4 linked regions of the Homo sapiens genome follow. The protein of the gene in region 4 interacts with the protein of the main gene of each other region in a pairwise test. Each region holds a gene or a part of one and is shown on either strand. Other genes may lie near its edges.

The links.
Region 1: the proteins of ATP13A2 (region 4) and PCDHB10 interact in a two-hybrid assay, tested with the Homo sapiens proteins (one study listed by BioGRID and IntAct).
Region 2: the proteins of ATP13A2 (region 4) and SYT11 interact in a two-hybrid assay, tested with the Homo sapiens proteins (one study listed by BioGRID and IntAct).
Region 3: the proteins of ATP13A2 (region 4) and ACKR3 interact in a two-hybrid assay, tested with the Homo sapiens proteins (one study listed by BioGRID and IntAct).

What each region holds. Positions count from the first base shown.
Region 1 is NC_000005.10:141,187,972-141,195,473, reverse strand, and holds the start of PCDHB10 (protocadherin beta-10 precursor), read right to left. Parts: upstream 3,122-7,502; 5' UTR 2,922-3,121; coding exon 519-2,921; 3' UTR 1-518. Other genes in the region: PCDHB9 (protocadherin beta-9 precursor), read right to left, coding at 5,762-7,502. UniProt on the Homo sapiens protein: Potential calcium-dependent cell-adhesion protein. May be involved in the establishment and maintenance of specific neuronal connections in the brain.
Region 2 is NC_000001.11:155,862,567-155,869,706, forward strand, and holds part of SYT11 (synaptotagmin-11), read left to right. Parts: intron 1-5,398; coding exon 5,399-6,225; intron 6,226-7,140. UniProt on the Homo sapiens protein: Synaptotagmin family member involved in vesicular and membrane trafficking which does not bind Ca(2+). Inhibits clathrin-mediated and bulk endocytosis, functions to ensure precision in vesicle retrieval.
Region 3 is NC_000002.12:236,565,392-236,572,924, reverse strand, and holds the start of ACKR3 (atypical chemokine receptor 3), read right to left. Parts: upstream 3,101-7,533; 5' UTR 3,001-3,100; intron 1-3,000. UniProt on the Homo sapiens protein: Atypical chemokine receptor that controls chemokine levels and localization via high-affinity chemokine binding that is uncoupled from classic ligand-driven signal transduction cascades, resulting instead in chemokine sequestration, degradation, or transcytosis.
Region 4 is NC_000001.11:17,001,856-17,008,995, reverse strand, and holds part of ATP13A2 (polyamine-transporting ATPase 13A2), read left to right. Parts: intron 1-3,217; coding exon 3,218-3,312; intron 3,313-3,439; coding exon 3,440-3,622; intron 3,623-3,923; coding exon 3,924-3,982; intron 3,983-4,174; coding exon 4,175-4,304; intron 4,305-4,584; coding exon 4,585-4,664; intron 4,665-6,622; coding exon 6,623-6,700; intron 6,701-6,892; coding exon 6,893-6,962; intron 6,963-7,140. UniProt on the Homo sapiens protein: ATPase which acts as a lysosomal polyamine exporter with high affinity for spermine. Also stimulates cellular uptake of polyamines and protects against polyamine toxicity.

The sequences.
Region 1 (7,502 bases), on a different chromosome or scaffold from region 4:
TATTATTGATGTTCAGTATTGCTCACAATATGCTTTGTTTCATTTTGTCATGAGCATAGTAGTAGAGAAATATTTCTTTTTAAATACATGATGTAGAAATAAATGACATGGTTTTCAAACACGAATATATAGAATGTTAGAATGAGTTTGGAAATGTAGATATGCCTTCTTAAATAGAGCAAGTACACTATAGACAGAAGTGATTAGAATCATGAGATGCAAGCTCTGAAATGAATCAAAACCTCAGATTTCTGTAATGAGATATAATAGTAATTAATTCCTTGGGCAGTTGGAAAGAATTAAAACCTTAACACTATCATTTAGAAAAAAATACTCATTAAATTAAACCCAGTTGTTATTAATGCAAAAAAATGATGAAACATTGTAAAACCACAGGGGTATACTACTTGAAAATAATGCTTGAAGTTGCATAATAACTTAAATTTGAGATTTAAAAGTAAACTAATAGAAACATGGCTATGTAACACACCAAAAGTATATGAAACTAAAAACAGACTTTACTGAATATTAAATCCAAAGCTATTTCGGAAGGTGGAATTTTCTTCACCCTTCCTCCCAGGGCCCTGTGCCTGAATATCCGAAATAACTGGTTTCAAGAACTTGAACTCACTGGTCCCGGGGCCTCCCGTCAGACACACCTCATACTGGTAGCTCTGGGACAGGGTCTCAGCGCCCCTCACGTCCACCAGATGCCCTGGAAAAGGACCCTCGGGCACCGAGCAGCGACCCACCGAGGCCGCCCTGCTCCTCCTGCACAGCCGCACCGCCACGAACAGGAGCACCGAGAGGAGGAAGAGCGAAGACACCGAGGCCAACGCCACCACCAGGTAGACGGTGAGCAAGTCGGCCTCGGCCTGGGCCTGGGCCGGGGCCGCCTCCGGGAGAGGCAGGTAGGGCTGGGAGAAGCCGTCCACCAGGAGCAAGTGCAGCGTGGCGGTGGCCGAGCGAGGAGGCTCGCCATTGTCCTTGACAAGCACCACGAGCCTGTGCTTGGCTGCGTCGCGCTCGCTCAGCAGCCTGGCGGTGCGCACCTCCCCATTGTGCGCCCACACACCGAACAGCCCGGGCTCCGTGGCCTTGAGCAGCTGGTACGACAGCCAGGCGTTCTGGCCCGAGTCGCCGTCCACCGCCACCACCTTGGTCACCAGGTAGCCCGGCTCGGCCGCCCGGGGCACCAGCTCGGTGCAGGGCGCGGAGCCGTTCTGCAGCGGGTACAGCACGAAGGGCGAGTTGTCGTTGGCGTCCAGCACCAGCACGCGCACCAGCGCCTCTCTGCTCAGCGCGGGGGAGCCGCGGTCTGTGGCGCCCACGCGGAACTCGAAAGCCTGCAGGGCCTCGTAGTCCAGCGACCTGAGGGCGAACAGGTGGCCGTTGTCCGCGTTGATGGAGACCAGGGAGGCGAGGGGCAGGTGCGGGTCTTGGGGCGGCAGCAGCGAGTAGGTGACCTGGGCGTTGGTGCCCGAGTCTCTGTCTGTGGCGCTGACGCTGCCGATGTGCAGGGCGGGGCTGTTGTTCTCGCGGACGAACAGGGTGTAGGAGGTTTGGGTGAAGGCGGGGGCGTTGTCATTGACGTCGGAGACCAGGACCGTTATGTTGTGCTCGGTTTTCAGCCTGGGTGTCCCCAAGTCAGTGACGGTGATAGTGATGTTGTACTCGGCTCTGATCTCTCTGTCCAGCGCGCCTTCTGTAATTAGGATGTAAAAATTCTCCACAGAAGGTTTTAGTAGGAATGGCAGATTCTCTTGAATGTAGCAAACCATCTTTCCATTTTCTCCAGAGTCTCTGTCATTAATCTTAAAAACAGCCAGCGGCGTCTCAGGAGAATTCTCAGCAACAGAGTTGGAAAATGATGATACGATCAGTTCAGGGGGATTGTCATTGGTGTCCAATACTTCCACTAAAACCCTACATCTTGCAGAAAGGCCTCCACCGTCCATTGCCTGTATATTTATTTTGTAAGAATTTACTAACTCATAATCAAGCAATTCTCTGAGAAAGATTTCCCCAGAAAAAGGATTGATTTGAAAGGTTGTTCGAATATTTTCTGAGGCATCAAAAAATGAATAGGATACTTCCGCGTTGACTCCAGAGTCTACATCTTCTGCCCATACCTTAACAATAAGGAACCCAATGGGGCTGTTTTCTGGAGCCTGGGTCTCATACAGAGCCTGGGCAAACTGTGGGGCATTGTCATTGACGTCCAAGACAACGATGCGTACAGTAGAGGTCCCAGACCTGGATGGAGACCCACCATCCAGCGCTGTGAGGGTTAAGCTGAGCTCTCCCTGCTCCTCCCGATCCAGTGCTTTGTCCAACACTAGCTCTGGATATATCATGCCTTCATCACCGCCACTAATGTTAATATGGAAAAAAGAGTTGGGGCTGATCGTGTAGTTTTGGATACCGTTAAGTCCTCCATCTGGATCCTGTGCTCTTTCTAGTCTAAATGCTGTCCCTTCAGCTGTATTTTCTGATATTTTTAAGACTGTTTCTTTGTCCTGAAATACTGGCGCGTGATCATTTATATCCCTGACTCTCAGCTCAGCCCGGTAAATCTGAAAGGGATCATCCATTAAAATTTGGAAATACAGCATACAGGGCTCTTTAGGGCCACACAGCTTCTCTCGGTCCAGTTTCTCATTTGTGAGCAAATTCCCGGTATGTGAATCCAGGAGCAGGTATTGTTTGTTATCATCGGAAACCACCCTGGTTCCCCTTGCAGCCAGCTCCCCCTCTGCTAGTCCCAGATCCTTTGCCAGATTGACCACAAAGGATCCTTTCTCTGTTTCCTCAGTCACCGAATAACGTCCAAACCCAGAACCTGCCAAGGACACTCCCCAAAAAAGAAAAAGAAACAGGACTTGCCTTTGTCTTGGGAAGCACAACTCTCTGACAGCCATAGCTGCTGCATACGTTATTTCCTAGTTGGTTACAGCCACAGCTCCCAGCATAAAAGAACAGCAGTAGGAAACCCTGCACCTACGCCGTGTAGCCCAGGGGTCTTTTTTGTCCTTTCCCTTTCCCAATCTTTGGCAGCTAAAGCTTCTCTTTTAAGTTCATCTGTCCGTGTCTTCCTTTATTAGTGACTTGCATAGCATCCTCAGAGCAATTCCCAAACCGTCTCTTTAGCCTGCAGCGCCACCGTGTGGCCTCCACCAGATTTCAGTAGTTGTACCCATTTGGGTGTGTGTATTCAGACAATTTCCTTTAGTGCCTCATTTAAATTTTTCATGTTTATTTTCGTTTGTCTTGTAAAAATTAATGTTGAGACAGAGAAATAGTCACATTGTTGAGATTCTTCAATTCTTTTTGGGAAAAGTTAAAAATTCAACACTTGAAAATATGTTTCTAGCAATAACTCTGTCCACCTCACTGTGCTAAATTTAGCTCTCTACTAGTCCTTTCATCTCAGACACAACTCTCACACAATGTCAAGAATCAAAGGGAAAATGTTGCTGACATCTGGGATCACCAAAGTAACAGGAGATTTTACTTTTCCAGAAACATCGGGATAAGAACACCAAAACAGACAAAGAAAATATGTTTCACACCTTCCTCAACAAACTTCAAAATCTCATCACACTGATTAAGGAGAATCATCACTCTGTAATCTTGTATAATGCATTTAAGCTGTCCCTCCTCTATTCTCTCATAAAAACTTGTGTATACAACTATGATTGCCCTGCAAATATTATTGCTTCTTAATTCATGCAAATCTATTTCTTCTTCAATGTGTGGGCTACTTAAGGATAGGAACTATGTCCTAATCATCTGTGAGTGACAAATCAGACAAGCAATAAATACTGCCTGTATTAGGACATGCATAAATAAACTCAGATGGGTAGAACCTGAAACGTTTTCCAGTGCCTTTCAATTCCGACCACTTGAAAGTTTTTTTCTTTCATTTACTCTTTGCAATTTCTGTTTCCTTACTTTCACTTGTCTTTGTTTTTCTTGTATTAGCTTTAAAGTAACTTACAGGGTTAAATAAGAGATTGATCCTTATTTTAAGGTCCCCTCTTAATTGAAATTTAGCAGGATCTAACTTCTCTGCACCAAATAAAGGGAGGTAAAGAACAGACCACACTAACACCTATCTTAACACTATTAAAATTAAGAACAGCATTCTAGTGTCTTTTTTCATAGAATTTTATTCAAAGTTCTTTTTAAGTTATTTTATATTTTATTTTATTTTATTTTGATGGAGTTTTGCTCTTATTGCCCAGGCTGGAGTACAATGGTGCAATCTCGGCTCAAAGCAACTTCCACCTCCTGGGTTCAAGCGATTCTCCTGCCTCAGCCTCCCGAGTAGCTGGGATTACAAGCATGTGCCACCATGCCTGGCTAATTTTGTATTTTTAGTAAAGACGGGGTTACTTAACGTTGGTCAGGCTGGTCTCAAACTCGTGACCTAAGGTGATCTGCCCGCCTTGGCCTCCCAAAGTGCTGGGATTACAGGAATGAGCCACTGAGCCCTGCCTCAAAGACCTTATATCTAGAAAGAAGCTCTATTTTGTCTATAATAGGCCCAAATGGATTAAGTCAAGGAATGTCGTGGAGGAAAAGGCTAGACACTACCAATAACACTCTAATAGCTGAATATAAAAGCCGCACAATATAAACCTCTACTTTGTGATTGCTGTTGTTTTTTCAACTGGATGGCACTGGGCTATTAGCCATTAAAAATTTAACAGGAACCTCAGGAACCTCTGATTTGTTTATACAGAATTAAAAGGAGCAAATTAAATATTTTCACATGATCCTATAGAATGACTAAATTTTTTTTTTTTTTTTGGTTTCCAGACTAAAGCCCATTTACACACGCTTAATATCTTGCAGTGGTTTTTCTTCTAAGGCTAATTAGGGGTTTATTTATCATATCACTTACAAGAGAAACATTATATTTCAAATAGGGAACTATCAATGCCGGGAAACTAGAACTTTAAAATAAAAGGTAAAGTTTAAGAAAATTATTGTAGGCTGGGTGCGGTGGCTCATGCCTGTAAATCCCAGCAATTTGGGAGGCTGAGTGGGGTGGATCACGAGGTCAAGAGATAGACCATCCTGGCCACCATGATGAAACCCGTCTCTACTGAAAATACAAAAATTAGCCGAACGTGGTGACATGCAACTGTAGTCCCAGATACTCTGGAGGCTGAGGCAGGAGAATCGCTTGAACCTGGGAGGCGGAGGTTGCAGTGAGCTGAGATCGCGCCACTGCACTCCAGCCTGGGCGACAGAGCGAGACTCCGTCTCAAAAAAAAAAAAAACAAACAAACCAAAAAACAAACAAACAAACAAAAAACAGTTGTAATGAACAAGGATGGCAAACCAATAAGAACACCGGTTTCAAAAGAAAAATAGAAGAAATATCAAATAGTAAAAGCACATATTACATGCAGCAGACTATTTTAACAAGTAAAAAGTTTTAGGAAAAGAAGAACTAATGAATAATGTAGAGGCAATGAATTTAAAGTCAATAAAGACATTTAAAACGACCAAAAATTTTTAAATGATATCAACTTTGAAAAATATTATATTTCACTTATGGGATTCTAGTAAGAAATGCCTCATCAGGATACAAAATAAGAAAAAGTTAACTTGTGAAGTTAAGCATAATACGCAAAGTTGAAGATGAATCAAACAAAAAATAGTACCTTCTTTGTGGTGGGCATACACAATTTAGTTAGCCAACAAGAATATATTAAAGAAGTAAATGTCTTTATTAAGTGGGTTCCTTTCAATAATTAAATCCAAAGCTATTGGGGAGAGTAGAATTTTCCTCTATTTCTTTCCCACCCCTATGGGGCGGGAGGTGGGGGGTAATCGGCTTCAAGAACTTGAACTCGCCGGTCTCTGAACCTCCAGTCAGACACACCTCGTACTGGTAGCTCTGGAACAGGGTCCCGGTGCCGCTCACGTCCACCAGATGCCCTGGAAAAGGACCCTCGGGCACCGAGCAGCGACCCACCGAGGCCGCCCTGCTCCTCCTGCACAGCCGCACCGCCACGAACAGGAGCACCGAGAGGAGGAAGAGCGAAGACACCGAGGCCAACGCCACCACCAGGTAGACGGTGAGCAAGTCGGCCTGGGCCTGGGCCGGGGCCGCCTCCGGGAGAGGCAGGTAGGGCTGGGAGAAGCCGTCCACCAGGAGCACGTGCAGCGTGGCGGTGGCCGAGCGAGGAGGCTCGCCATTGTCCTTGACAAGCACCACCAGCCTGTGCTTGGCCGCGTCGCGCTCGCTCAGCAGCCTGGCGGTGCGCACCTCCCCATTGTGCGCCCACACACCGAACAGCCCGGGCTCCGTGGCCTTGAGCAGCTGGTACGACAGCCAGGCGTTCTGGCCCGAGTCGCCGTCCACCGCCACCACCTTGGTCACCAGGTAGCCCGGCTCGGCCGCCCGGGGCACCAGCTCGGTGCAGGGCGCGGAGCCGTTCTGCAGCGGGTACAGCACGAAGGGCGAGTTGTCGTTGGCGTCCAGCACCAGTACGCGCACCAGCGCCTCGCTGCTCAAAGCCGGGGAGCCGCGGTCTGAGGCGCCCACGCGGAAGTCGAAAGCCTGCAGGGCCTCGTAGTCCAGCGACCTGAGGGCAAACAGGTGGCCATTGTCCGCGTTGATGGAGACCAGGGAGGCGAGGGGCAGGTGTGGGTCCTGGGGCGGCAGCAGCGAGTAGGTGACCTGGGCGTTGGTGCCTGAGTCTCTGTCTGTGGCGCTGACACTGCCGATGTGCAGGGCGGGGCTGTTGTTCTCCCGGACGAACAGGGTGTAGGAGGTTTGGGTGAAGGCGGGGGCGTTGTCATTGACGTCGGAGACCTGCAGGGTTATGCTGTGCTCGGTTTTCAGCCTGGGTGTCCCCAAGTCAGTGACGGTGATGGTGATGTTGTACTCAGCTTTGCTCTCTCTGTCCAGTGCACCTTCAGTCATTAGGATGTAAAAATTGTCAACAGACGGTTTCAGAAAAAAAGGCAGATTATCTTGAACATAGCAAATTGTCTTTCCATTTTCTCCGGAGTCTCTGTCTTTAATCTTAAAAACAGCCAATACTATCCCAGGAGAGTTTTCAGCAACAGAGTTGGAAAGTGATGATATGATCAGTTCAGGAGGATTGTCATTGGAATCTAATACTTTTATCAAAACTGTACATCTTGCAGAAAGGCCTCCGCCGTCCATTGCCTGTATATTTATTTTGTAAGAATTTACTAACTCATAATCAAGCAATTCTCTGAGAAAGATTTCCCCAGAAAAAGGATTGATTTGAAACGTTGTTAAAATATCTTCAGAAGCATCAAAAAATGAATAGGATACTTCTGCATTGACTCCTGAGTCTGCATCTCCTGCAGACACTTTAACAATAAGGGACCCTACTGGACTGTTTTCTGGAGCCTGGGTCTCATACAGAGCCTGGGCAAACTGTGGGACATTGTCATTGACATCCAAGACCACAATGCGTATAGTGGAGGTCCCAGACCTGGATGGAGAC
Region 2 (7,140 bases), about 140 Mb from region 4:
TACCCTATCTCCATTTTCTAACAATAAAAGTTGATGCATTGTAAATATGTAAGCAGCAGTGGGTTGCCCCCCGCTCCTCCACCGCACTGCTGCAGGGAATAAATCTATGATAGAGCCAAAAGAATTGCCCAGGTGTCTCCTAATCTAAGCCTTCAGATCTCTCTTTATGATCATTCCAAAAAATATGCCTGTCTTGGTAGTTTGCTGTGTTCCTCTTCTCATAGAGACAGTGTTCAGTTTCACTAATGAGTAGCAAACAATTTGCAGGAAAGCACCTGATTGATGAATGGAGAGCCACTTCCTTAGGCTGTGCCCATTCTTAATGGCAACTGAATCCAATTAGTTGTTCAACCAAATATTTACTGAACTCCTATTAGAAGCAAGAGACTCTTGAGGGATTCAAAGATCCATAGGATATTGTTCCTGCCTGCCTTCAAGTAGCTTACTACCAAGGCTGTCTCCATTTTGTGAAAACTTTCCCTAAAAGCTATTTCATTTAATACTTTGAGACTAAACACTATTATTATTCGGTATGGATATAGACATGGTCACCTTGATTTATTTTGTTAATAATGTTTTGCTCCTTATCTATATTATTTTAAAATGTACCCGGGTACAGTGGGTCGTGCTTATAATTCCAGCGACTCAAGAGACTGAGGCAAGAGGATCTTGAGGCCAGGAATTCAAAACCAGACTGGGCAACATAGCACCTTGTCTCTAAAAAAAATTTTTTTTAATTAGCCAGGCATAGTGGCATGGTCCTGTAGTCCCAGCTATTCAGGAGTCTAGGGTAGTAAGATTGCTTGAGCCCAGGAGTTCAAGGCTGCAGTGAGCTGTGATTGCACCACTGCACTCCAGCCTGGGCCACAGAGTGAGACCACGTCTCTAAAAAAATAATAACAATAAATATATATTTTAAATAAAATGTAACTCTTCCTTGGTTAGGCATGGTGGCTTGCACCTGTAATCCCAGCAATTTGGTGGAGACTAAAGCAGAATTGCTTGAGCCCAGGAGTTCAAGACCACCTGGGCAATATAGTGAAGACTCATCTCTAAAAAAAATTTAAAAATTAGCTGGGCATGGTGGCTCATGCCTGTAATCCTAGCACTTTGGGGGGCCAAGGCTGGCAGATCACTTGAGGTCAGGAGTTCGAGACCAGCGTGGCCAATATGGTGAAACCCCGTCTCTACTAAAAATACAAAAACTGGCCAGGTGTAGTGGCATGTGCTGGTAATCCCAGCTACTCAGGAAGCTGAGGCAGGAGAATCACTTGAACCAGGGAGGCAGAGGTTGCAGTGAGCCGAGATCGCGCCATTGCACTCAAGTCTGGGCAAAGCAAGACTCCATCTCAAAAAAAAAAAAAATTAACCAGGCATGATGGCACATGCCTGTAGTCCTAGTTCCTCAGGAGGCTGAGGCAAGAAGATCATTTGAACTGGGGAGGTCAAAGCTTCAGTAAGCTGCGATCATGCATGCCACTGCACTCCAGCCTGAGTGACATGGTGAAATTCCATCTCTGCAAAAAATACGAAAATTAGCCAGGTGTGATGGCATGTGCCTGTAGTCCCAGCTACTCAGGAGGCTGAGGCAGGAGGATCACTTGAGCCCAGGTGGTGGAGGTTGCAGTGGGCCAAGCTTGTGCCACTGCACTCCAGCCTAGGCAATAAAATGAGACGCTGTCTCAAAAGAAATAAAAAAAGTAAGCTCTACCACAATGCCTGGCAGGGACATATAAATTTACACAAAAAATAGCAATTTTATTATTGTCACTGCTATACACAATATTACATGTATATTATGACCAGTGCAGATGAAATTATACCTGCCTCTCATGTAATCTGGACATTATGCTCATAGTATTGTGCTCATGATGCTCATAGGCTTTCTAGAGAAGATAAACCCTTCATCTAGGTTTGGAGGGAAGAAAAAGCCATGGATTGGTTGGAGAGGATAGGAGAGGATACCTCTAATAGAAGGGAAAACAGTAGGCATTATACTAATTATAGTCCAAGATTGTGGTTGCCTAAATTCCTAAGTCATTTTTGACTCATCAAGTGAGGTTATTGACTATAAATAGGTTTTTGAGTCCAAATAGAAATTTACATTTATCCCTGATATATGTAATCATCTTGACTCAATCCTTTTTTTTTTTTTTTTTTTTGAGATGGAGTCTCACTCTGTCACCCAGAATGGAGTGCAGTAGCACAATCTCAGCTCACTGCAGCCTCCGCCTCCGAGGTTCAAGCTATTCTCCTGCCTCAGCCTCCCAGGTAGCTGGGATTACAGGCACCTGCCACCATGCCAGGCTAAGTTTTGAATTTTTAGTAGAGACAGGGTTTCACCATGTTGGCCAGGCTGGTCTCGAACTCCTGACCTCAGGTGATCTGCCTACCTCAGCCTCCCAAAGTGCTGGGATTACAGGCATGAGCCACCGCACCAGGCCTCAATCCTCTCTTTCTAATCTGTGGAGGCTGTTTTGAATTCACTGACTCTTTTGTTCACTGAACGCTTACTACATGCCGCATAGTTCTAGGACGTGGAACTATAGCAGTGAACAAAACAGACAAAGTTGCTGTTTTATTAAGCTTGTCTAGTGATCAAAGAAAGATAATAAATATATGTCAGGATAATAAGCTCCATGAAGAAAATTAAGGAAGGGTGATGGGGACATTATCTTACTTGGGGCAGACAGGAAATATTTCCCTCATCCAGTGAGGTTCGGGGCTCACGATAAGTGAAGCAGTGAGCTGCACAGATGCCTGATACAAGAATGCTTTAGGCCGGGCGCGGTGGCTCATGCCTGTAATCCCAGCACTTTGGGAGGCCGAGGCAATTGGATCACTTGCGGTTAGGAGTTCGAGACCAGCCTGACCAACGTGGAGAAACCCTGTCTCTACTAAAAATACAAAAATTAGCCGGACATGGTGGCGCATGCCTGTAATCCCAGCTACTCGGGAGGCTGAGGCAGGAGAATTGCTTGAACTCTGGAGGCGGAGGTTGCGGTGAGCCGTGATCGTGCCATTGTACTTTAGCCTGGGCAACAAGAGCAAAACTCTGTCTCAAAAAAAAAAAAAAAGAATATTCCAGAAAGAATCGGGGAAATGCTGGAATTATGTCTATTTCCTTTTCTTTTTTTTCCTCGCTCTGTTGCCCAGGCTGGAGTGCAGTGGCACGATTTTAACTCACTGCAACCTCCACCTCCTGGGCTCAAGTGATCCTCTTACCTTGGCCTCCCAAATAGCTGGGACTACAGGCATGTGCCACCATGCCCTGCTAATTTTTGTAATTTTTTTGTGTAGAGATGGGGTTTTGCCATGTTGCCCAGGCTACATTTATTTCCTTAGTTCTCCCTCCCTTCCAAGTGGTCCCCTAAAAAGTAAAGTGGAAAAAACTATAGGCCTAATCTGGACCTTTAAAGCCTAAACCCAATTTAGCCTCAATGAACTTGAGGGAGCGAAGAAACTTGAGGGTCCAATTTTTGTGGGAAAAGATAAGACTAGGGTAAGGGAAACAAAAAAAAAATCTATTTCTCTTTCTCTTTTTTTTTTCTTTTTTTTTTTTTTGAGATGGGGTCTCGGTCTTTTGCCCAGGCTGGAGTGCAGTGGCACGATCTCAGCTCACTATAACCTCCACCTCCCGGCTTCAAGTGATTCTCCTGCCTCAGCCTCCTGAGTAGCTGGGATTACAGGTGTGTGTCACCACACCTGGCTAATTTTTGTATTTTATTTTAGCAGAGACAGGGTTTCGCCATGTTGGCCAGGCTGGTTTTGAACTCCTGACCTCAGGTAATCTGCCTGCCTCAGCCTCCCAAAGTGCTGGGATAACAGGCGTGAGCCGCCACACCCGGCCTATTTCTGTTTAGTTATTTGTTCATCCAACACATAGTGCCTGCTATGTGTTTTAAGTGCTGAGGGTACAGCCGTGAACAAAACAGACATAAATTTTTGTCCTCATGAGACTTATATTCTAGTGAAGATAAATAATAAATTGTAAAATAATATGCGTGTGGGTGTTTATTCTTACATATTTGTGTATGTATTTTATATATTTTTTTCTTACATGTGTAGGGGTGTGTGTATCAGAGAGCGAGAATGACGGCATGTTGAAAAAAATTAAGCAAGGCTAGGAAGAGTGGGTGGTGAGGATGGAGAAGATTGCACTTTTAAATAGGTGAGTCAGGAAAGGCCTAAGAAGGTGACATTTGAGCAGAGATCTGACATTTTCCACTAATAGGGAAGAAAACCCCTATTTCTTCCAGTGAAGGATTTATTAAGGTAATAATAATGAAAAGAGAAAGTCTCTATTTCTTCCTATTTAGAATAATATATGTATACATAAATACATATATATACACACACACATATATACATATATACACACACATATACATATATACACATACACACACACACACACACACACACATATATATATATACATACATACACACACCTATTTTTTTGCCTACAATGGATATATTCATCCTGGAGGAATACCTTTTTTTTTTTGAGACGAAGTCTTGCTCCATCACCCAGGCTGGAATGCAGTGGCACGATCTCAGCTCACTGCAACCTCTGCCTCCCAGGTTCAAGCGATTCTCCTGCATCAGCCTCCCAAGTAGCTGGGATTATAGGCACATGCCACCACGCCCAGCTAATTTTTTATATTTTTAGTAGAGACGGGGTTTCACCATGTTGGTCAGTCTGGTCTTGAACTCCTGACCTCAAATGATCCACCTGCCTCAGCCTCCCAAAGTGCCGGGATTACAGGTGTGAGCCACTGCACCCAGCCTTGTATTTTATATACCTGGGAGCTAAAATTTTGGAACATATTTTAAAAGTACATAAACCCAGAATTCTTCCTTTTGGCACCCATCCATTTTTACTACCCTGAACACCCTACCAAGACCATCTAAACTCATCTCCACACCCTTCCACCCTAGCCTGACAGCGAGTCAGTCAGTGCAGGCCCTGTTCTGGATGCTATGGAATATCCTGAAACCAAACATCTTGTGTAACAGTTGAAGTGAACAGGTGCTCATGTAAAAAGGTGATCTTAGAACACGTACAGAGCAGCTTTATGTGAAGCACAAATCAGTATGAGCAAACCAAGTCTATAAGTGCTGAGAGAAGGTCTAGGAAAGAACATAGAGTCAAGTGGGGTGCTTCAGAGAAGGCTTTCTATAGAAGGCTGGGAGGAAAAGCCGTGGAGTGGTTGGAGAGGTTGGGAGAGGGTGCCTCTAATAGAAGGGAAAAATTCTGAAGCCCAGATGAGCACATTTTGCTTTAGAGGCTAGATTGAAGATTAGCTTGGCTCCAGCAGTGGCAATGAGCAGGGGAGATCTAGACAGGAGGTGAAGTCCACCCGCCCTGACACATCTCTGATCTCCGCCTTCAGATGTGTCACCGGTGGTGGCCGGCCTCATCGGGGCCTCTGTGCTGGTGGTGTGTGTCTCGGTGACCGTCTTTGTCTGGTCATGCTGCCACCAGCAGGCAGAGAAGAAGCAGAAGAACCCACCATACAAGTTTATTCACATGCTCAAAGGCATCAGCATATACCCAGAGACCCTCAGCAACAAGAAGAAAATCATCAAAGTGCGGAGAGACAAAGATGGTCCTGGGAGGGAAGGTGGACGTAGGAACCTGTTGGTGGACGCAGCAGAGGCTGGCCTGCTAAGCCGAGACAAAGATCCCAGGGGGCCTAGCTCTGGATCTTGTATAGACCAATTACCCATCAAAATGGACTATGGGGAAGAACTAAGGAGCCCTATTACAAGCCTGACCCCTGGGGAGAGCAAAACCACCTCTCCATCATCTCCAGAGGAGGATGTCATGCTAGGATCCCTCACCTTCTCAGTGGACTATAACTTCCCGAAAAAAGCCCTGGTGGTGACAATCCAGGAGGCCCATGGGCTGCCAGTGATGGATGACCAGACCCAGGGATCTGACCCCTACATCAAAATGACCATCCTTCCTGACAAACGGCATCGGGTGAAGACCAGAGTGCTGCGGAAGACCCTGGACCCTGTGTTTGACGAGACCTTCACCTTCTATGGCATCCCCTACAGCCAGCTGCAGGACCTGGTGCTGCACTTCCTTGTCCTCAGCTTTGACCGCTTCTCTCGGGATGATGTCATTGGCGAGGTCATGGTGCCACTGGCAGGGGTGGACCCCAGCACAGGCAAGGTACAACTGACCAGGGACATCATCAAAAGGAATATCCAGGTGAGTAGGAAGTGTGTGTTGGGGAGCAATGGTAGGTTGGGGGAGAAAATATCTCAGGGGATAAATGGAAGTGGGAGGGGAGTGGGTTGGGTGGCAAAGAAGGGCTGTAGAGAGGAAGCTCTTGGATGTCAAGGATAAGCAGTGGTCAGAGTAAGACAGAGGGCCTGGCAGATGAGGTCTCCTCTAAGAAGCAACTTCCTGGTGAGAGAAGGTTCAATAGCTTTCACCATTTCACTTAGTGGTTGGCATCCTGATGCTGTCCAGCTTACTTGGAACAGGCTGGCCTACCATTTGTAGATCCTTCATTATATCAGGGATATGGGAGCTAATTTCCTCTCCAAAATGATGTGATCTTCCTCCAGTGAATTTATTTTTCACAGCTGAGAAGCTATGACAATAATTCAGTAATTTTTCCCTCAGCTTCCCTTTCCCAACCCTAACCTAGGGGTGTAAATGATACCATGTACATGTCTTTTTTTTTTTTTTTTTTTTTTTTGAGACAGAGTTTCACTCTTGTCGCCCAGGCTGGAGTGCAATGGCGCAATCTCAGCTCATTGCAACCCCCACCGCCCAGGTTCAAGCTATTCTCCTGCCTCAGCCTCCCGAGTAGCTGGGATTGCAAGCACCCATCACCACGCCTGGCTAATTTTTTGTATTTTTAGTAGAAACGGGGATTCACCATGTTAGCCTGGCTAGTCTTGAACTTCTATCCTCAGGTGATCCACCTGCCTCGGACTCCAAAAGTACTGGGATTACAGGCATGAGCCACTGCACCCAGCCGTCATGCACATGTCTTCTTATGACCATTTTACAATGCAATTCAATGAATTGCTTCACCCTTCTAGGCCCAAACCTTTGCCATAGACACTTCCCCTCTCTCCATTTCTCCTGTCCTCCCTCTTTGTATTAGAAGAG
Region 3 (7,533 bases), on a different chromosome or scaffold from region 4:
ATAATAACTACAGAAAACTCTATATCCTGATTCAGATACAGTCCACCTCTTCCCAGGGTCCTTAGACATACTTCACATGAACACGTGGGACACCCTCGTCCACTTTAAGGATTTGGGGGATCAAATAAATCCCACGTCCAGAAACCTGATCTGGTCTATTGTGCTCAGCTGCCCGACAGGGAAGCAAAGCTATACCCACAAGAGCAGGTCCAGAGATTCCCACGTCACAAAGGCTGCCGTCTGGGCCGGCCCAGTGTAACCAGAGCCCTGATTCCCACCCAGCTTAGGACTAGGACGAGGCAGTGGGAGGTCAGCCAGGCTAGGAGAGCCTCCTCACCCCCGCCCTAAGCCAGACACAATGGGGTTCCCAGGAGGACACTGTGCAAACTTAGGCTCTGCATATACAACTGAGGGAGGATGGCCACATATCTGTTATAGCAGGAAAAGCAAAAGATGCTTACTATCTGGCTGACCCAGACTTCAAAACGCAAAGTCCCCCACACTGCCCTGGGCTCGTTATCTGTCCCTTTGCCAACAGTGGTTCAAGGCCACCTGAGATAGTCTCGGCCCCCATCCACTTTTTCAGTGCCTGGAACAAAACACAGTCTGCTTCCAAAACTACCTGTGGCTCTTTAAAATTGTCACCATAAAATTATGCAATTCCCTGATCACTTTAATATTGAAGCAATAGTGTTTTGTTTTGTTTTTTTCAATTCCAAATTAGTCGATAAAAGCATCAAACATTCCCTGAAGGAAACCATCAAATATTCAAAATCAGGGCCACCGCCTGCACGCCTCCCTGTCCTGATCTGTCTATTTCTGGCTTGCTTTCTTTTATTTCAACAGAAAATACGTGTCCTGGAGCTTTGTCTTTTCCTTCCTGAACTTTAGTAACACTTGACATGACACGATCTTTAGTTTCTTCCTGAATTATGCCTACACACGTGCAATCCAATTGAAGGCGTTTTAATACTATTCTTGCTTCTAATAATAAAACTAAGTTATTTGATTGCCTGGTTTAAAGGTACAAATGCCTTCTGGCCCCAGATTCCCCTCATGTTCTACAAAATCACAAAAAAAAAATCTAAAGTTTTGCAATCTTTGAGGTCTTTTTCTTTCCCCTCGGTTACTCTTAAGGTTTATAAAGTGACTGCCCTTCAGCCTCAGGTTTGAGTGACTTCAACCAATTTCCCTCACGTCGACTTGAAAACAGGAGCTCTCGCCCTAAAATGATCACACAAAAAGCCACTGTTCCTGATTAAGCAGGGTTTTTTGTTTTGGGTTTTTTTTTTTTTTTTTTTTTTTTCATTCAGAAAGCCTATACTTGGCCTGTTCTGGGCCTGATTAGAAATCATAATACCTTCTCAACGCTTCAACGACTTGCTGTTAATACGGGGAAAACACACCCCCAAAGCCCTGCGTGTGTCGCACAGGCATGCTGCCTTGGCGATGCTTTATGGAACTTTTTTAAAACTACGTCTGCAATGTCTGCCCCTTAAAAGAGAAAAGCTGATGGGCAGCAAACTGCAGCCATTTCTCCATCTTCCTTCGCTTTCCCACCCCCATCCTGGGCAGCTTTCCCCTCCCCCCAATCTCCTGGAGGTTGTGGCATTAAGCTCTGCAGTTGTGTGCACATTCAAGTGTTTATGGCAGAGACTGGGGAAAAAAGAGCAAATTGTTTCCAAGCTAGAGCTCCCATGTGCAACTTTGCTTTAGAAAAGACTTTCCATCTGGGGAAAGCTCATATTCTGATGAAAGAAGGGCAAGCAGTTTATCCATTTAAAATCTATGGAAAGTTAAAGCACAGAAACCAGCAGCCTCCACTTTCTTTGCTAGGCGTGCCTAGCTGATGTCCACATTTTTCCTGGAATAAATAAAGGGACACTAAAAGCAGCATCTGCCTTTAAAAAAGAAAAGAACAAAGTTACCATGTTGAGACTTTGCAGACTGAAGTTTCAGGGGATGTCACTGCACCAAATACATTCAAAGGGCTGTAAACCATTTAAGGAGGCTCTCTCCCACTTTTGAAACACTAAGTAATCCTGTTGTGAGCAAAAGGAAAGAAAGAAAGAAAGAAAGAGGAAGAGAGAAAGAGAGACAGCCAGTCTGACTTTTACAACTTCTCATTCTCCCTGGAAGTTACAAGTCTTGGCTAACCACCCATCCCTGACCTCACTCCAAAGTTCTCTCAGTCACTCCTTGAATCTTTGCACATGCCAACAAAATTGAACAAAATCCACATTTTACCTGAAGAGTATATTTAAATTGCAAAATAGTAGATTTGTGTGTGTGCTTCCCCCAACCCCAATTGAAGTTGGACTTAACACCTTCTAAGAGAACAATACTCAAATTAGATTAGCAAGCGTGCCATCAAGAGAAGAGAAGACCGGGCTGTGTTTAACATTCACGTTTATAGCTTCCGGACTTACAGACTCTGGTAAATCCCCCAAAGTACTGAATTCAAATACATCTTGGACTCACAAAGATTCTCAGCAGTTTTCTGCTCCATTTAAGGATGCCTCTTAATAAAGTGTTCATCATTCTGGAATTACGTATTTACTGCCAATTTTATCTGTTTCCAAACTGATATACTAGAAGCAAAACAGGTAAACAGTGGGTGCCAAGCTAATCCCCATGCCAAATTGGTCAGGCAGAATGGATAGTCTGTGTTCTTGCAAAGTTCCCCTGCTTACTGGAGCTTAAATAGCCACACAGCAAATAAACACCAGATTCCTAAATACACATGGAAATTTCCTTCTGCAAGTGACTTAAGAAAACTGCCCTTTGCTTTCTGAAGAGAAAGGTGAAGCCCTCCGAATTAGCAAAAGCACTTTGCAATGCAGCTGCGTGCAGCCTGGGTTTTCAGAAACCAGACCCGCAGACTCAAAAGCACCCATCTGAGCGATTTTAAAGAAGGCCTTTGAAAAGACCACTTGGCTTAAGAGCAGAAGCCGTGCCTTCTTTCCGAGCAGAGCTGCTGCCCGAGCACCGTTTCCTTACCTCCGGGCTGGCTGGGCTGGCTGGGCTGGCTGGGCTCGCTCGCCTTCCTGGCTGTGCTGTGCGCTGGCTCCCTTAGTGCTGAGCACTTTGCAACAACTGTGAGCTCTGCTGGCTGCAGACTTGCATTATATACACTGCAGAAAGGAGCCTCTAGCCTCTAGATGGCAGCTTTGTAACCCACATCTCTCTCTCCCCCGTGCCACCCCCATCCCACAGGCAGACACACACACACACACACCCCCCTCTTGTAAACCTCACTAGTCTGTTGTTTCCTGCACAAGTGTACTCTTGGGAAACCCCAGCCTTCTTTCATTTGCAAAATCTGGTGAAGCCACAAAGTCCAAACCCCACGGGGGGAAAACGTCAGCCAAAGACAAACTGCAAAGAAACCCTAGTGCTTGGCAAAATCATCAAATATTTATCTGGTCTCAGGTATATCTTGAATAATCCCATTAACACCAAGAGCTCCTGTGAATGCCTCTTCGCTCTAGGGAGGACTTTGTTCCCAAGACAAATTACTCTGAACTTCTGAACTTCGATGTTGATTTACTAAGCCTGGGTTTTCCTTGTTAATTCCTCCAAAACAGAAGTAACAGTTTTGGTATGACCAATGAATCGATGCCACACCGTATATCCCCAAAGTGGAGAAAAGAGTCTTTATAATAGATTATACTTGAATACTTTTATTTGTAAAGGACTTTAAGTACAAAATCCTTGAGACTCTAATCAAGATAGTATTCTACAGTGTCTGCCCAGTGCCAGACACGCATTAGGAAGATAATAAATGCCTTTTGATAATGTCTTTTTCTGAGATGAGTCTGGCAAACACTTTACTACAATTATTGCAATCTACATTCTTATTTGGATGCGTATTGCTAAAGTTCCCCCCACGGAGGAATTCAACCTAAAAATGTGATCCAGGTGATACTCATCTCCAATGCCCCATTTACAAAAATCGTCCATAAGATAGGGACCCAAAGGCCACCCGCCAGCCCATCCCATGTGCAATGCTCTGGCTTTCGTATTGCTTTCTGATCTCCTGGAGTTCTTAAAGAGCGGCTCAAGTGGAGTGTATGAAGGCACCAGCTGTATTCACGCCTTCTCCAGAGCTAAAACTTTTCGAGATTCTTTTTATACTTCTACTAAAAATAACAGCAGACGCTCGGTCCCAGCGCTGAATCTGGGGGACTGGGAGGTCAAAGTCTCACGTGGCTAGAAAGTCTCCGTGTGGAGAAAGCCCTTAACGAAAGAAATATTTTGTTTAGCTAAAAGCTTCACATTTTTCTCCTGAACTGGCTGCCCAGCGGGAGGCGAGGTGCACACCTGCTCTCCGGGGGCCTCCGGAGGGGTCGCCCTGGGGCCGGCCTTTCCCAGCCCGAGCGCAGCGTCCCGCCACCGCCTCTGCAGGGCGGCGCAATCACTCTTCGTGTCACATCGGCACCAAGGACATCTCCAGGCTCCCCAGAGACGCTGGAAAGGAAAACTGCCAGCGGCTGCGTCTACCCACACCCAAGATCTAGGCGAGACCTCGACTCTCCACAGCATACGTGTCCTGACTTTTTCTGTCCTGTTTCTTTCTTGTGGGGGACCCTGTGTCTGAGCCCGCTGGAAATGTACGGGGATCCCCTCTGGACTGCAGCTCGGTTTCCGCTTTCTGTGGCTGTAGCCGTGACTCCGGGGCCTGTCCTTCAGAGAACGCGCTCCGCATTGCAGAGCCTGCGCGCCCGGTGGAAACACAGAGTGGGTGTCAATCCGTTCTGAGCTAAGTGTACTGTCGCTGGAAGAAAGGCCACATGGGCCGGGGACCCCGGACAGGATGCTAACGTAGAGGAAGGAAAAGGCAACGCAGTTTTTTTAAAAAGTAGAACCCGCTTCGTGCGTCCGGGGCCAGAATCCACGAGGCCGCCTTGCAGCAGCCTGCGCCCTGCCCCGCCAGCCCCGGCCCCGCGCCCACCCACGGCCTGCACCCAGCCCCGCACCCACACACGGCCTCGCGCCCTCCCACAGCCCCGCGCCCTGCCCCGCACCCACCCACGGCCCGCACCCACGCCCTTCCCCGCGCCCAGACTTGTTCCGCACTCACGCACGGCCGGGCACCCGGCCCAGGCGCCTGCGAGAATTCTGGCCCCGGGGTCACCGCCCTCGCCCTTCGACGTCCCCCACCCGTCCCCTAGTTCCGCCGGGCGGGGCTGCTGGAGGCTTCCAGACGGGGAGGGGCGGACCAAGCGCCAGCGGGGAATGGGGCGGGGTGGGTCGGGAACTCTGGCCAGGCTCCCACCCTGGGAGGAGGAGCTGGGTGCTTGGGGCCTGAACTTGGCTGTCTCCTTGGGCCTCCCACCCTGTCCCAGAAAACAGGCCTGGGGGAAAACGAGAGGGTAAGCAAGCAGGGCTTTTTGAGAAAACGAGATTCCATTGCCCTAGGACCTAAAAGTCTCTTTTCAAAGTTTTGAAGAGTGTCTCTGCTTTTGGAAGATTGTGCTTTCAGTGTAAGGGCAGAACTCCACCTCCATCCTCTAGGGGTCCCGGCTGGGTCCGAGAATTAAATTGACATAAGATAGATGAATAGGAGGAAAGCATAGTGCAAGTTTCACGCGGCATGGGAGCCCTCATACAGAAATGCAGACCCGGCCGGGCGCGGTGGCTCAGGCCTGTAATCCCAGCACTTTGGGAGGCCGAGGCGGGCGGATCGCGAGGTCGGGAGTTCGAGACCAGCCAGGCCAACATGGTGAAACCCCATCTCTACTAAAAAATACAAAAAATTAGCCCAGCGCGGTGGCGCGCGTCTGTAATCCCAGCTACTCGGGAGGCAGGAGAATCGCTTGAACCCGGGAGGCGGAGGTTGTAGTGAGCCGGGATTGCACCATTGCAATCCAGCCTGGGTGACAGAGTGAGACTCTGTCAAAAGAAAAAGAAGGGAAGGGGGAAGGAAGGAAGGAAGGTAGGAAGGAAGGAAAGAAGGAAGGAAGGAAGGAAGGCAGGCAGGCAGGCAGGCAAATCCTCCTTGGGGAAAGAAAGAAAGAGGGAGAGACAGAGAGAGAAAGGAAGAAAAGACAGAGAGAGAAAGAAAGAAAAGAAAGAAAGAAAGAGGAAAGAGATGACGACCCGAACAAAGAAAGCAAGAAAGAAAGCAACAGAGAAAGGCAGGCCCTAGCAAAGAAAAGGAAGGAAGGAAGGAAGGAAGGAAGGAAGGAAGGAAGGAAGGAAGGGAAGGAAAGGAAGGAAAGAGGGACAGACCCGAGCAAGCAGTTCGCGTCCACTACTTAAATACTGGATTAAACAGAGAAGAATAAACTTTGAAAATGTGACTAAAAAGATTAGAGTGACGCTCTGCAGTATTCTTTAGCTGGCAGCTTCTAGTCCTAAGGATAAGGATGCTGTCTTCCTTCTGCTATGGGGAGAGTGATCTTGCACCTGCTGTTTTTCAAGTGCCTTTCACTGAAACAGTTACCATGCCAGAATGCATATTTTAACCTTTTCAGTAAGGTCCAATATAATGGTTCTTTTGGGTGGGAATGTGTTTGGTGGCACCTAATAGAAAACTCAGAGAAGGCACGAACAGGACGCTGTCCCTACCGCTGTCCCAGCTGACCCAGAACTAAAAGTTCCTGGATGTTTTGCTACCCCTGAGTGCTTATTGGAAAGGGGTCAGGAAGGGGTTTCAGCTAAGCTCCTCCCTCCTTCCCTGTCTGTAATCTGCACCTGGGGTTGCACGCCCCACAGGGCAGGTGGTCAGCTCTGTCTGCTCTGGGATCTGATTCGCCTGTAGATGTGGCACCACCAGGCTTCTTCCAGAAACCGCACCTGACTTAAAAGCGTGAGGATCCTGGCGGGCCAGAGCGGCGGCCGGTAGGGTCTGTGATCTGGGAGCCCCGTTAGAGTGGAGACAGTGCAGTTATGGTGACTGTGATATGAGCCCAGAGAGGCTCAGCTGCGCCGCTGGCCTGAGGACGAGGCGTTCCTCATTCTTGGAGTTGTGACCCTGGGAAGAAGCTTCATTATCTGGTAGCTGGGCATGGCAGGAGTCATTTCACCTGGGACTGGACGCTCCCCCAGAATAACCGCAACACCAAGCCCCTTCTGCAGGGCAACGGCTTAAAAGCAAAGACAGCCCCTCAACTCAAGGGAATTGGGTTCCTCTGTCCAGACAACCTGGCTTGGAACCCTGATATATACACACTGTAGGGGTGGGAAAAGTCTACCTCCCTCCTCTTAGGGTCCCAGCTGAGTCCAAGAATTTAATCCACATAAGATAGATTAACAGGAGAAAAACTTAATACAAACTTCACGCAGCACAGGAGCCCTCATAAAGAAATGAAGACCCCAAAGAAGTAGCTAAAGTCAGTTAATTATGTAGTGGATTGGACAGAGAAGAGTTAGTTGTGAAGAAGCCACTAAATTATATGGAGAGGCTTAAAAGATAAGAGTTATTTTTAACAAGATCTGTACAGAACTCTCCCAGTTTCGACTTTGACTATATAAAAATGTTGCATCATCTAGGGAGGGCATCTTTCACATAGGAATTTCACCCTCTGC
Region 4 (7,140 bases):
GCTGGGCTGTTGGCCTGAGGGTTTTTTTTTTTTTTTTTGAGTCTTGCTCTGTCACCCTGGCTGGAGTGCAGTGGCGTGATCTCAGCTCACTGCAAGCTCCACCTTCTGGGTTCACACCATTCTCCCGCCTCAGCCTCCCAAGTAGCTGGGACTACAGGCGCCTGCCACCACGCCCGGCTAATTTGGTTTTTATATTTTTAGTAGAGACAGGGTTTCACCGTGTTAGCCAGGATGGTCTCAGCTAGTCTCCACCTCCTGACCTCGTGATCCGCCCCCCTTGGGCTCCCAAAGGGCTGGGATTACAGGCGTGAGCCACTGCGCACGGCCGGCCTGAGGGTTTTAAGGTACAAGGAGCAACTGTTGAATGGGCCTAGGGAGCCGTGGGACAGCCAGGGCTTCAGACAGGGTGATGTGAAAGGAGAAGAGAGCCTGGGAAATGGATAAGCAGAAGCCACGCCCCCCTGACCTGGGAGCCGGGTCCTGCCCACCTGTCCACGCAACCCCCCCAGGAACTTCAAATGCTTCTACCTCCCTGTGTGCTGGATGCTTCGGGACTATCATCCTAGAGATGAGAAATGGAAGCCCAGAGAGGCAAAGGCACTTGCTGTATGAAACACAGCATCAAAAAAGAAATTCTTAGGAACAAATGATGGGCAAAAAGACAAAACCCTGTCTCTACAAAAAAAATTAGCTGGGCATGGTGGCCTGTGCCTGTAGTCCCAGCTATTTGGAGGCTGAGGTGGGAGAATTGCTTGAGCCTGGGAGGTCAAGGCTGCAGTGAGCTATGATCGCAACACTGCACTCCAGCCTGGGTGACAGAGAGAGACTGTCTCAAAAAAAGACTTATACACGAAAACTGTAAGCTGGGCATGGTGGCTCACGCCTGTAATCCCAGCACTTTGGGAAGCCGAGGCTACAAGAGTGATAAGTAAATAAATGAATGAATGAATGAATGAAAGGACATCACAACCGAGGTTACCTGGCAGGGTTGATACGTTAGCCATGTACCCTGTGCACAGTGAGCCCTCTAGGAGTGTTGAAGCCAGAGTGCTTGGGGATGGGGCTGCTCAGAGGCTGGGGGTGCTGTGCCCACAGCAGCTGCCTGGGGCACTCTGGACTCTTTGGGTAGAAATTTTAGAAGGGCTCGCCGGGCGCTGTGGCTCACGCCTGTAATCCCAGCACTTTGGGAGGCCGAGGCGGGCGGATCACGAGGTCGGGAGATCGAGACCATCCTGGCTAACACGGTGAAACCCCATCTCTACTAAAAATACAAAAAATTAGCCGGGCGTGGTGGCGGGCGCCTGTAGTCCCAGCTACTTGGGAGGCTGAGGCAGGAGAATGGTGTGAACCCGGAAGGCAGAGCTTGCAGTGAGCCGAGATCGCGCCACTGCACTCCAGCCTGGGTGACAGAGCGAGACTCGCTCTCAAAAAAAAAAAAAAAAAAAGGAAAAATTTTAGAAGGGCTCAGATTGGGGGATGAAGGAGGGAGCCCAGAAAATCAGCAGCCTACCCCGCACCCGCCCAGCTTTTCCAGCTTAGTGAGCTTTTTCAGAGGCTCTTGTGAAACCACAGATGCCTAGCACCATCCCTACCCCGGCCTGAGGAGTTGATCCAGCCAGTCTGGGGAGGGCCCTGGCATCTGCATATGTAAAAGGTGCTCCAGGTGGTCTGGGACCGTAGATGAACCCTGACAGAGGCTGTCCAAGGGTGGGGCTGGTGAGCTCTACCCGCTCTGGAGCCCCAGAACATCCACTGGCTGCCTGCCCTGCTAAGGCCACAGCTCTACAGCACAGGAGGAAGGAGTGAAAAGAATGTCTGTGGCCGGGCGCAGTGGCTCAGCCTGTCAGCCCAGCACTCAGGGAGGCAAGGCGGGTGGATCACCTGAGGTCGGCAGTTTGAGACCACCCTGACCAGCATGGTGAAACCCCGTCTCTACTGAAAATACAAAACTTAGCTGGGCGCCTGTAATCCCAGCTACTCGGGAGGCTGAGGCAGGATAATCGCTTGAACCTGGGAGGCAGAGGTTGTAGTGAGCCGAGATCATGCCATTGTATTCCAGACTGGGCGACAGAGCAAGACTTCATCTCAAAAAAAAAAGAATATCTGCAATAGAACCACCTGATACCATTCCCCAAGTCTCAGTTTACCCATCTGTAAAGATAGGCCTGCAGGGCTGACCGTTTATTAGTCCAGACTTGACTTTGCATCTCCTCACTGCCAGACCTGGGCTGGGCACGGGCATGGAATGAAGATAAGCATCCCTGACCCCTGCCCTCAGGGTGGGGACTGGATGAGGATAGAAAAGTGAGACCCAGAGCTCCAAGGAAGCTAATGGCTGGATGCACGAGCACCATGGGGGCTTGGGGCACTGTCCAGGCCCCATTCTCCAATTCTGGGCCATACCCAGCAGAAAGACCGACACACGCAAGGAAACAAGACACTACTGGCCAAGCACGGTGGCTCATGCCTGTAATCCCAGCACTTTGGGAGGCCAAAGTGGGCAGATCACTTGAGGTCAGGAGTTCGAGACCAGCCTGGCCAACATGGTGAAACCCCATCTCTACTAAAAATACAAAAATTAGCTGGGCATGGTGGTGCATGCCTATAATCCCAGCTACTCGGGAGGCTGAGGCAGGAGAATCGCTTGAACCTGGGAGGCAAAGGTTGCAGTGAGCTGAGATCAAGTGACTGCACTCCAGCCTGGGTGACAGAGTGACACTCCGTCTCAAAAAAAAAAAAAAGATACGGTAAGTAAGAACCGACGGAAAGAAGAGCCAGATAAAGGACACAGGAAGACATGAGCTTTGGGCTCTGTCAGACCAGGTGCTTACTGTTTTGTGTTTTGTTTTGTTTAGTTTTTTGAGATGGAGTCTCACTCTGTTGCTCAGGCAGGGGTGCAGTGGTGTGATCTTGCCTCACTGCAACCTCTACCTCCCAGGTTCAAGTGATTCCCCTGCCTCAGCCTCCTGAGTAGCTGAGATTACAGGCACGCGCTGCCACGCCCGGCTAATTTTTTTTATTTTTAGTAGAGATGGGTTTCACCATGTTAGCCAGGTTGATCTCGAACTTCTAACCTCAGGTGATCCACCCGCCTCGGCCTCCCAAAGTGCTGGGATTACAGGCGTGAGCCACCGCGCCCAGGCTGATGTTTATTGTTTTTAAGGAAGCAAGAGGAGAAGGTGCCTCCCCAAATGACCTTTCTCTTTTCTGTCCACAGACAGCAGCCCTCTCGTGGGCAGCACGCCCACCGGTTATGGGACCCTGACGATAGGGACATCAATAGATCCCCTCAGCTCCTCAGTTTCATCCGTGGTAAGTGGGCAGAGTGGGGTGGGGAAAAGCTGCAGGGGGTGAATGCCCAGGCCCACCCAGACACCCCAACTTCCTACTCCAGCCCCGTTCCCACCCCGACCTGGGCCCTCTCTCGCTGCGTTCGCAGAGGCTCAGCGGCTACTGTGGCAGTCCATGGAGGGTCATCGGCTATCACGTCGTGGTCTGGATGATGGCTGGGATCCCTTTGCTGCTCTTCCGTTGGAAGCCCCTGTGGGGGGTGCGGCTGCGGCTCCGGCCCTGCAACCTGGCCCACGCCGAAACACTCGTTATCGAAATAAGAGACAAAGAGGTGAGAGTCAGGCTGAGCCTGGGGCTAGAGAAGCGCAGTGAGGGTCAGGGTCGGGGGTGGAGGATGCTTGGGTGCCAACCCGGCCACTGACTTTCCATGGGACATTAGGCAGGTCCCGCTCTTCTCTGGACCTCAGCTTTCCCATCTGAGCATTGGGCAGAAGGGACGGGTCGGGTGGTTTCTGGAGGGCTCTCCATAGCCTTGATTTCTGCCTTCTCCAGCAGGGGCCGCCTGGCTGTAGGACAGGGCCTGGGAGGGGAGGGGACTCTTCTGAGACTGAGTCCATACCTCTGTGTTCCAGGATAGTTCCTGGCAGCTCTTCACTGTCCAGGTGCAGACTGAGGCCATCGGCGAGGGCAGGTGAGGCAGCCCCATTGCCCCTTCCCAGAAGCCCCTGCTACCCTGGCCTCCCCAACTTCCCCAACCCTCGGCCCCCCCATAAAGGCTGACTCTGGCGCCTCCCATCCTAGGGAGGGAAGATGGCTCTGTGAGCACAGGGAGGTGCCAGGGCAGCTCCCAGAGCTCGAGAGTAACCCTCACCTGCTTCCCCAGCCTGGAGCCGTCCCCACAGTCCCAGGCAGAGGATGGCCGGAGCCAGGCGGCAGTTGGGGCGGTACCAGAGGGTGCCTGGAAGGATACGGCCCAGCTCCACAAGAGCGAGGAGGCGGTGAGTGTCGGACAGGTGGGTTCTGAAAAAGTCCTTGCCCCTCTCTCGGCCTCGGTTTCATGATCTGTGCAATGGGAGAGTCAGACTTCATGTTCTCCCACCACCTTTTAGTTCTGTTGTCCCAAACATCCAGGATGCTGTCTGAGCACGTTTACACTTTCAGGCCTCTCCCCACCTCTCTGTCTGGTGACACCAGTCCCTGCCCCCTACCCCCATCCCTCGGCTCCCAGCATAAGCACACTGCTTCTGGGGCCGGGGCCAGCTTCCAACCCATCCTCTCCTCTCTCCCACCCAGAAGCGGGTGCTGCGGTATTACCTCTTCCAGGGCCAGCGCTATATCTGGATCGAGACCCAGCAAGCCTTCTACCAGGTCAGGTAGGAGTCAGGGCCTGTGTGGCTCATGTCACCTCCCAGAGTGGCACTGGTTTGGGCACAGACGGTGGCATGGCATGGCCTGGGCTCCCCTCTCAGCTCTGATGCTTTTGCTGTCTGAAACCTTGGGCAGGTTACTGAGCCCCTCCAGGCCTGGGATCTCTGTCTATAAATAGGGCATGAAGATAACTTCTGCCTCCTAGGATTGTTTTGATGGTGAAATAGATAATAATTTATGTAGAGCTTGGCACCGAATGTGATCTGAGGTTGTGACACCACTGTGAATCAGACTATCAGCTCTGTACTCAGACTGTCTGCTTGGGGTTTAGTCACTGCTCTGCCACCTACAAAAGGCTTAAGAAACATGAGCTCAGGCTGGGTGCGGTGGCTCACCCCTGTAATCCCAGCACTTTGGGAAGCCAAGACAGGTGGATCACGAGGTCAGGAGTTCAAGATCAGCCTGGCCAAGATGCTGAAACCCCATCTCTACTAAAAACACAAAAATTAGCTGGGCGTGATGGCATGTGCCTGTAATCCCAGCTACTTGGGAGGCTGAGGCAGGAAAATCGCTTGAACCTGGGCGGCAGAGGTTGCAGTGAGCCAACATCGCGCCACTGCACTCTAGCCTGGATGACAGAGCATGACTCCATCTCAAAAAAAAAAAAAAAGAAAAAGAAACACAAGCTCACCACACACCTTAGTTTGTGTGTATGTGTGTGTGTGTGTGTGTGTGTGTGTGTGTGTGTGTGGTTTTTTTGGTTTGTTTGTTTGTTTTTTAAGATGGAGTTTCACTCTTGTTGCCCGGGCTGGAGTGCAATGCCGCATTCTCGGCTCACTGCACCTCCGCCTCCTGGGTTCAAGCGATTCTCCTGCCTCAGCCTCCCGAGTAGTTGGGATTACAGGTGCATGCCACCACACCCAGCTAATTTTTGCATGTTTTGTAGGGACGGGGTTTCACCATGTTGGCCAGGCTGTTCTCAAATACCTGACCTCAGGTGATCCACCCGCCTCAGCCTCCCAAAGTGCTAGAATTACAGGCATGAGCCACCGGGCCCTGCTCACACACTTTAGTTTGAATGCCGCAGAAGCAGACCCCCAGACAAGGGCTCAAGGGCAGGGAGTTTGTTTTGAAGCTGATCCCAGGCAGTGCTGGGGAAGGGATGGAAGCACGGAGGGAGGTTATGCTGGCTGCCACAGCTGTGGACACCCGGACTTCAGTCGCCTGGGGATCTCCTTGGGCCAGCGTAGACCACACACCTCTGGGCGACCTCACACAGGGAGTGAGGACAGTTACCATCAAATTCCCTGCCATTATCAGTCACGGGACACAAAGTCTTCCACGCTTTCCGGGCTCACAGGCAGGGGATTCACATGCAGCCAGAAGGCCTCAGGTAAAGACAGGTGTTTTCAGGGTCCAGCTGTCATGTGGAGGTGAGGCAGAGGGGAGATGGGGATGGCAGCAACAGCCTCTGCTGCATGATGGGGATAATAGCAAAAATCACCCGTGCATTCATCACTTAGCAAGTGGCAGGCACGTCCAAAGCAGTCCCCGAGGCTTGCCCCACTTAATCTACCCATGGCCCTATGTGGTAGGTGCTGTCACTGCCCCCATTTTGCAGATGAGAAAACTGAGGCACAGAGAGGTTAAGTGACTTGCCCAGGGTATCATCAGTGTAAATAGTGCCCTTATCACTAAATAACAGCTACTCTTTTCACTGTTCATATTATTAGCATCATCTCTCGCTGTTCTCCTTCTTCAGTGACTTGGTTTGGAACCCAGTGAGAGGAACAAAAGGGCAAAGCCAAGCCTTGGGTTCAAGGGGGCTTACTTGCTCCCAGGAGCTCAGTGTGGCAGAACGGGGATGGGGGGCCTAGAGCCCATAGTCTCCAGCCTGCACAGGGTGGGGGATGCAGACCTCAGGCCCCATGGCCCATGCGTGTCCCCTCGCACCCACCCCCAGCCTCCTGGACCATGGCCGCTCTTGTGACGACGTCCACCGCTCCCGCCATGGCCTCAGCCTCCAGGACCAAATGGTGAGGTCAGTGCTGCCCTGGACCGGGGTGCCCTGAGAACTGGGGCTCCTTGTGTTGCCCCCCAATGTGGTTGCCTTCCAGTCACCTGCCTTCTCTGGGCCTCAGTTCCCCCAGCTGAAAGTGGGGAGCTCCTTCACCCCGGGAGGGTCCAGCCACAGCTCCTCCTTCTGATGGCTTGGCCTCATCCCCTCTTCCAGGAAGGCCATTTACGGCCCCAACGTGATCAGCATACCGGTCAAGTCCTACCCCCAGCTGCTGGTGGACGAGGTAGGGCTGTCCCTGGGTCTTGCCCCAGCCCTGCCTGGCGTGCTGTGTGACCTTGGCCCAGGGCTTGCCTCCTCTGGGCCACTTTACGGTGGCAACCAGACCAGCTGTCCCCTTCTCCATAGTGGATCGTCATCTCAGAACCTGCCGCAGTCAGCCTAGCCAGAGAGACCAGGTCCAG